Homo sapiens: one gene and its partner. The protein of the gene in region 1 interacts with the protein of each later gene in a pairwise test. Each region holds a gene or a part of one and is shown on either strand. Other genes may lie near its edges. The genes, in order: TM4SF1 and DNAJA1.

What was found.
Region 2: the proteins of TM4SF1 (region 1) and DNAJA1 interact in a two-hybrid assay, tested with the Homo sapiens proteins (one large-scale study listed by BioGRID and IntAct).

Annotation. Positions count from the first base shown.
Region 1 is NC_000003.12:149,371,422-149,374,818, reverse strand, and holds part of TM4SF1 (transmembrane 4 L6 family member 1), read left to right. Parts: intron 1-2,951; coding exon 2,952-3,132; coding exon of another isoform or gene 3,133-3,152; exon of another isoform or gene 3,153-3,217; intron 3,218-3,397.
Region 2 is NC_000009.12:33,031,588-33,035,420, forward strand, and holds part of DNAJA1 (dnaJ homolog subfamily A member 1), read left to right. Parts: intron 1-2,628; coding exon 2,629-2,743; intron 2,744-3,833.

The DNA of each region.
Region 1 (3,397 bases):
AATCCATATATAATAAGAATGGCAACTATATGAATTTAACCCAAGCCCAGGGCAAACCATGCCCTTACCCCTGTGTATACATGCACTCATATAAAACATACACATACATACACTCATATAAAACATACAAACTATGTACAATGCCCCCTTTTTTAGTTATTAAGCTATATAAGTAAGGCCTATTCACAATCATAATATCAGGATAATTTGTGCTGTTCTACCATTCTATGTTGATACTTATTTTTTTTATCAGTTATCCAGAAAAGAACAGAAACAGCACAGCTGATAGAAACGGATGTATGTGGTGATGAATGGATGACATGTTTCTTTGAGCAGGAGTTGATTCTGAGTTTCCCTTTTCCCTACTCAACTTTCTGAAGTTGAATTTTGAAAGGTTTAGTTTTGAGATTCATGATTAAAAATAATATTAATAACAAATTATATTATCAAGAATGTTTGACCCCATGAATTTAAAGCATGTAGTGAGGATATATGAATCTCACAAATTTAGCACAGTTATGAGATCATGAATTTGAATTAGCTGGGTTCAATCACAGCTCTGCACCTATCTGTAGGAAAAGGTGAAATGAGCTCTCTGCATCTCAGTTACTCCACTGGTAAAATAAAATCAATGGCAATTGTCATGAGAATTAATGAAATAATATGTAAAATGTTCCCCACAGAGGCTGCCACATTGTGTGCAACTGCCACTGTTAGCTGTTAATATTAGCTACTACCTTACAATAAACATAACCCAATGGTAGCCTTTGAAGGAAAATTGATACTTACAGAAGTTTGAAATTTTGGTGTTCAAAACTGTGATCAATCATGACTCAGCTTTTATCAGAACATACTGGATGTACTAGTAGAAAATGGCTATTCACATATGTACAAACATACAAAACTATTGCACAAACAGACTTCTAAGAAAAGTCATGACTTATGCAACCAGAATGCAGGGAGAGGTGGTAGTATTGCTAAATGGTTTTTATAGCTATTTGACTGTTTGCCCCTCCCATTATCCACTCTGGATTCTACAAGAAACCTTCCTCCTCTTCTATGTCATTCTTCATTTAAAACTGTCCAAGGATTTCAATATGGGAAATAACTAACAGTCACAAGCCACAGGTTAGTTGCCTGGGAGCCAGGTGGAGCCAAAAATTTTTTTTTACATTGAGACCTGAAAATATAGATTTTTGTTCTGCTGACATGCAGAAAGACAGGGCCACAAAAACAGAACTTTTTTTGAAATGAACAACTATAATCTCTGATTGGCTCAATGAACTATTCTAAAGTTAGGTCTCAAATTCCAAGCCCCTTTGTTCTGTTGTGGAAGGAAGTCGTGATAAGAAAAGAATTATACCAGGCCTCTTTGTGGAATTAAGTCAAACCTTGATTTTCCCACATGATTGTATTATATTTTGTTAAGAATCCAAATACTCTGTAGCAAAGGCTGAAATTCTAGGAGAGCTATCAGAAGTAGAATTTTTCAGACTGGAAGAATATCCAGGTATTTATAAAATCGACTAAATCCTAGAATCTATAGTCAGATATCACCTCAGTATGGTTTGCTGACATTTCACAAAGCAACTTCATATTGTTATTTATCATTCAACTGCTTTTAAAATGTGCTGAGTGGCTATTGTGTGTCAGATACTGTTCTAGCGGCTGGATATACAATGATGAATAGGTCTGGCTCCTACCTTCATGGAGCTCAGCCTTATTGAATAGATACATAAGCAGCTGTTCTCCCTGGACTAGGTTAGATGCCCTTCCTCTGTGGCTCTTCCATATTTTGTTTACCGATCAGCATATCTGTTGCATTGAGATTACTTGTGACTTGTCTCTTCCTTTAGAAGCTATGCTCTTTCAGGACAGAGCCCGTGCCCTGTGCTCCATTATATCCCCAGCTCTGGCTCAGTGTCAGACTCACACTGACTGCTCAATAATCTTTGTTGAATGAGCAAATGCAGTGTGCTACATGCTATTATCAACTCTTGGGCACAGCATCATGAAAGTGAAGAGCTATCAGCCGGGCGTGGTGGTTCACGCCTGTAATCCCAGCACTTTGGGAGGCTGAGGCAGGAGAATGGCTTGAACCTGGGACGTAGAGGTTGCAATGAGCCAAGATTGCGCCATTGCACTCCAGCCTGGGCAACAGAGTCAGACTCCGTCTCAGAAAAAAGTAAAGAGCTATCAAATTAGTTGGGTTTAATCCCATGAATTTGCTTCCTGTTGCAAATTAATTTATTCCTTAAAAACAAAAAATAGCTTTGTTCCAAAGGTCTCAGTTGAAAAATTCCAGCATATTAAATATCCAAACTTGCCAGAATTTGGATAATTTTCAGCAGTAACAAATTGAGATGTAATAAAATGATCTAAATTAATATTTTAAAGTTCAAAAAAAAAACTAGCCTAAAGAGATTGTATTTTCTAAATATTCACTCAATATTGAATACAAATACCCATCTTTTATACCAATAACAACAATAAAATTGGAAAACAGTTTTAAAAAACACCTACACATACTCTACTTTAGCACATGAATTATTTTCATTTTTCCGCATTTGCTCGTAGTTTACTTCCTACACATACATGAATCTTACCTAGCTTTAAACACAGCACAAATACAGTTCTGCATTTTTATTTTTGTTTATAAGAATTCAGATGCCTGTTAGGGAATATAAATATCATTATAAGGTGAGAATTTCTGACCATGTAATCCTAGATTGGGGTCAAAAATTATAAATTATAATTTTATGTTTATCATTACAGTAGGATCTGGGCTAAATTCCTCCATTTTGTGGAATGACATGCAGTGGAAGAAACTTACACAGGATATTGAATAATTCATTCCTTTTTTCTGAATGAAAAACCACCAAACAAAAGTAGTTTATGAAGTATCCCCTCAAGTATGACCGTGTGTCAGAAGTTTCTCTTTTTACCCACAGGTACCTTCTGGATACCTCCACATGGTCCGAGTGCACTGAACCCAAGCACATTGTGGAATGGAATGTATCTCTGTTTTCTATCCTCTTGGCTCTTGGTGGAATTGAATTCATCTTGTGTCTTATTCAAGTAATAAATGGAGTGCTTGGAGGCATATGTGGCTTTTGCTGCTCTCACCAACAGGTAAGAACCTGCATGAAAATGTCGTAGTCTGGCCCTGGTGTTAATATACCATTGTTTTCATCATAAAGAAAAAGGCAAAACCAAACATGCTCGACCTACCAGCATTTATTCTGATATCATCTTTGTAGCAACACAATTATAGCATTCACTTTAGCTGTCAGTAACAAGCTTCCTCGAGTCTCACAGTCACAGGATTGTCTTAGTTCTTTGCAGTTGGCTCTATGTACACAAGAACATGCTGCCCATAGACACAGCGCTCCCTTCA
Region 2 (3,833 bases), on another chromosome or scaffold:
CACCTGGCTAATTTTTTTTGTATTTTTAGTAGAGATGGGGTTTCACCATGTTAGGCTGGTCTCAAACTCTTGACCTCAAATGATCTGCCTGCCTTGGCCTCCTAAAATGCTGGGATTACAGGTGTGTGCCACCATACCTGGCCTGGGCTAGTTTAAATAAGCGTATTGGCCCACTTAATTGGCTTACTTGCCCATCTATTATATTTAAATGCTCCGTTAATTGATTTGATAGACTACCTTTCATTTTTTTAGACTTGACACTTCCCTAACCCATTGGGCTCCAGATTTAGAAATAACTATATAACCTTTTTTTTGTATTCTCGGGATTTGATTGATTTGTCAATTTTTAAATTTTACTCTTGTCAACTTGCAAAAACATTTTAAAATGTATTACAGCAATACACTGCAGAAATTTTAAGAAATGTATATAACCCCAGAAGGAAACTTAAGTCAACATTATGGTAATCTCTTTTCAGATTTTGCTGTTTATAAATGGGTCTACTATTATACTGTACTGTGGTATGATACCAATCTGGAACTGTTAATATTTGAACATATTTCCATATTAATATACAAATCTACATTAACATAAGTGGCTGCAATAGGATTCTATCATGTGACTCATGATACTGGCCTCTCTGACCCCCAGGGTTCCACCCAAGAATGTAGTACATTGAAAGGTAAAAATAAGTTTCCTTGGCCAGTTGTTGAACTTAATAAATCTGTGTTTACCCCTTAGTGGGCCCATGCCTAAGGTTTATACTTTGAGGTGTTCTTGATACCAATAGCATACAGAGTAAGTCTTAACGTTGTTGATAGGTTCTTGGAAACTGGGACTTCTAGCAGAATGACCTCAAATAATGTCATGCAGGTCCTCAAATAATGTCATGTCACTGTAACACAGCTGAGGGGAAAAAAATTGGTCTTGTTATGTGTCATTTCATTTAAAGCAATTTCCAAGAACCTATCAACAATGGACTGTAAGTGAGAACTTGAAATTAATGCCCTAACTATATAGCAAGTGAAGGCATTTGTGCTGTGCCTACTCTTACTCTGTATTCAGGAAAACCTAGCTGAGTTTAATTGCTTCCCTAGCATAACAAGTTATTTTGCCTCAATACACGATTAAAGACAGATTGTTTAATTTTGTCAGTGTATGATACTGATAGCGCTTTAAGTCCTTATTTAAGAGGTACGTACTGAAGTATTTGTGGGTTAATGGATATAGTTGGAGTTTGCTTGAAAGTATATGTGGGGGGCATGCGTAGGGGTGTAATACATGAAATATTAGTCATGAGTTAGTAACTGCTGAAGCCAAATTGGATGGATATGTAGGAATTCATTGTACTGTTGGCTCTGTTTATACAGGATTAATATTTTCCATACGTAAAGGTGAAACATGATTGCTCTGTTAGGTAACCAGAGTGATCTTGGGAAATAATCAGGAGATAACTGCTTTGGTGTAATACTCTACAAACACAGGTTTTCTTACATGAGTTATGTTCTAAGAGACGTTGCCCAAACCCTTACTGAACTAAAATATGTGGGTCAGAGGTGAGGGGCACGAAGTCTCAGTTTAAAAAAAAAAAAAAAGGCGTGTTTTTTTGCCCTGTTAGAAAATACTCCTCCCCTTGTATTTTACGGACCACATGGGCTAAGGGAGTGTCTAGCACTGATTGTTTTGTTTGCTTGTTTAATTTAAATGAGACAAGGTCTGGAACTCCTGTGCTCCAGGGTGCTATCCTCAGGGTATCCTCCTGACTCGGCCTCTCAAAGTATAATTACCCTTTTTTTAAGGGGACTATACTGAATAGTTCTTTAAAATACGGATTTTCAGGCACAGGGGCTCAGGTCTGTAATCCGAACACTATAGGATGCCGAGGCAGGATCCCTTGAGCCCAGTAGTTCAAGACCAGCCTGAGCGACATGAGAACCCCCATCTCTATTAAAAAAAAAAAAATTCAAAAATTAGCTGGTCTGTGGTCCTGGCTACTCGGGAGGCTGAGGTGGGAGGATCACTTGAGCCCAGGAGATGGAGGCTGCAGTGAGCCATGTTTGTGCCACTGCACTCCAGCCTAGGCAACAGAGCAAGATCCTATCTCAAGAGAAGATTATAGATTTAAAATTTTTTTAGTTTTATATATAAATACTACAATAGAAGGGTCTTGATTTACATTGCTGTTAGACTTTTAATAGAAGTAATTTGATGTGTTATAAGTAATGAAACTGAAATACTTAATTAACATTTTTTGGTTATAACCAGTGTTAGCCAGTCATGGTTTAGTACCAGCATATACCTGTTGAGTTAATACTCTAAATATTGCTAATGAGGTGTAGGTGTCTGTGGGAAAGTTGAAACTTGGAAAGGATATGCAGCTTACTTCCCCAGGGTAATCCAGCCAGTGAATAGCAGCTCTGAGATTTGAAGGCTAGTCTCTTTGCCTCTGGAGTTTGTGTTCTCCACTATGATACCTTTCTTCAGGAGCAAATTGGACTGAACTACTTAAGTGGGCTTTCTTAGTCATTTCTGTGATTTTTATGCATAAACAAACATCTATGTATAGATTTTATGATTCTGACCTTAGTTGGATATTTAATAAAAGTACAAAATTAATGTTTTGTTTTTAGGCATGAAAGATGGCCAGAAGATAACATTCCATGGTGAAGGAGACCAAGAACCAGGACTGGAGCCAGGCGATATTATCATTGTGTTAGATCAGAAGGACCATGCTGTTTTTACTCGGTAAAGACTTTTATCAACCACTCAAATTGATATCACATATTTGGGTTGTTGGTTTTGTTTTTTGTTTTTTTGTTTTTTTTAAAGTGTTTTCCATTACTCTTAGAACCTATTTCTCAGGAAGATTGTTAACCATTGTTCAGATCATAAGAGGTTGAATACATAGGATCAGATTTTTAGCTTTTTGTCTCTAAGTATGGAACGTTGAAAATGTGTTTCAATTAGATGTTTTGTGTGAACCTAAGCAGCAGATGGGTGGGGAAAACATCCCTGGACAAAAATTTGCCCTCAATCTTTGTAAAGCAATTTAAGTGCCTTAAAGCTCTCACCAGTTTTCAATCTCATTTATGATAAATTGAATTGCTTTTAATTATAAATATCCAAAAGCATCTCTGTAGGAAACTTAAATTGTAACTCAATACTAAGTATAAATTCAGGTCTACCATTTTGAGCTAAATAATGAGTATGATGAACACTGAAGCACAAGAAAGATGGATGATTAACAGCAAATGTTTGTGATCCATGGCTAACATAACACCCTCTGTGCATGCTATATTCCCAGCAACTTGGGAGGCTGAGGTGGGAGGATCACTTGAGGCCAGGAGTCCTAGCTACTGGGGAGGCTGAGGCAGAAGAGTGGCTTGAACTCAGGAGTTCAAGGTTATGATCATGCCACTGCATTCTAGCCTGGGTGACAGTAAGAACCCACCTTTTTTTTTTTTTTTTTTTAATGGAGTGGAGGTGAAATTGGGAACATCTTAAACTAGTTTAGGATTAATTAATATTTCAGCTTGGTTTGGTGGCTTACGCCTGTAATCCCAACACTTTAGGAGGCCGAGGTGGATGGTCAGGAGTTCAAGACCAGCCTAGCCAACATGGTGAAATGCCATCTCTGTTAAAAATTAAAAAATTAGCCAGGCATGGTGGCAGGCCCTGAGGCAGGAGAATCACTTGAACACAGGAGGCAGAGGTCGCGGTGAGTTGAGATGGCGCCATTGCACTCCAGCCTGGGCAAAAAGAGCAAAACTTGGTCTCAAAAAAAAAGACTAATATTTTACAAATGTCTGAAGATAATGGGAAATGTTGTCAAGCT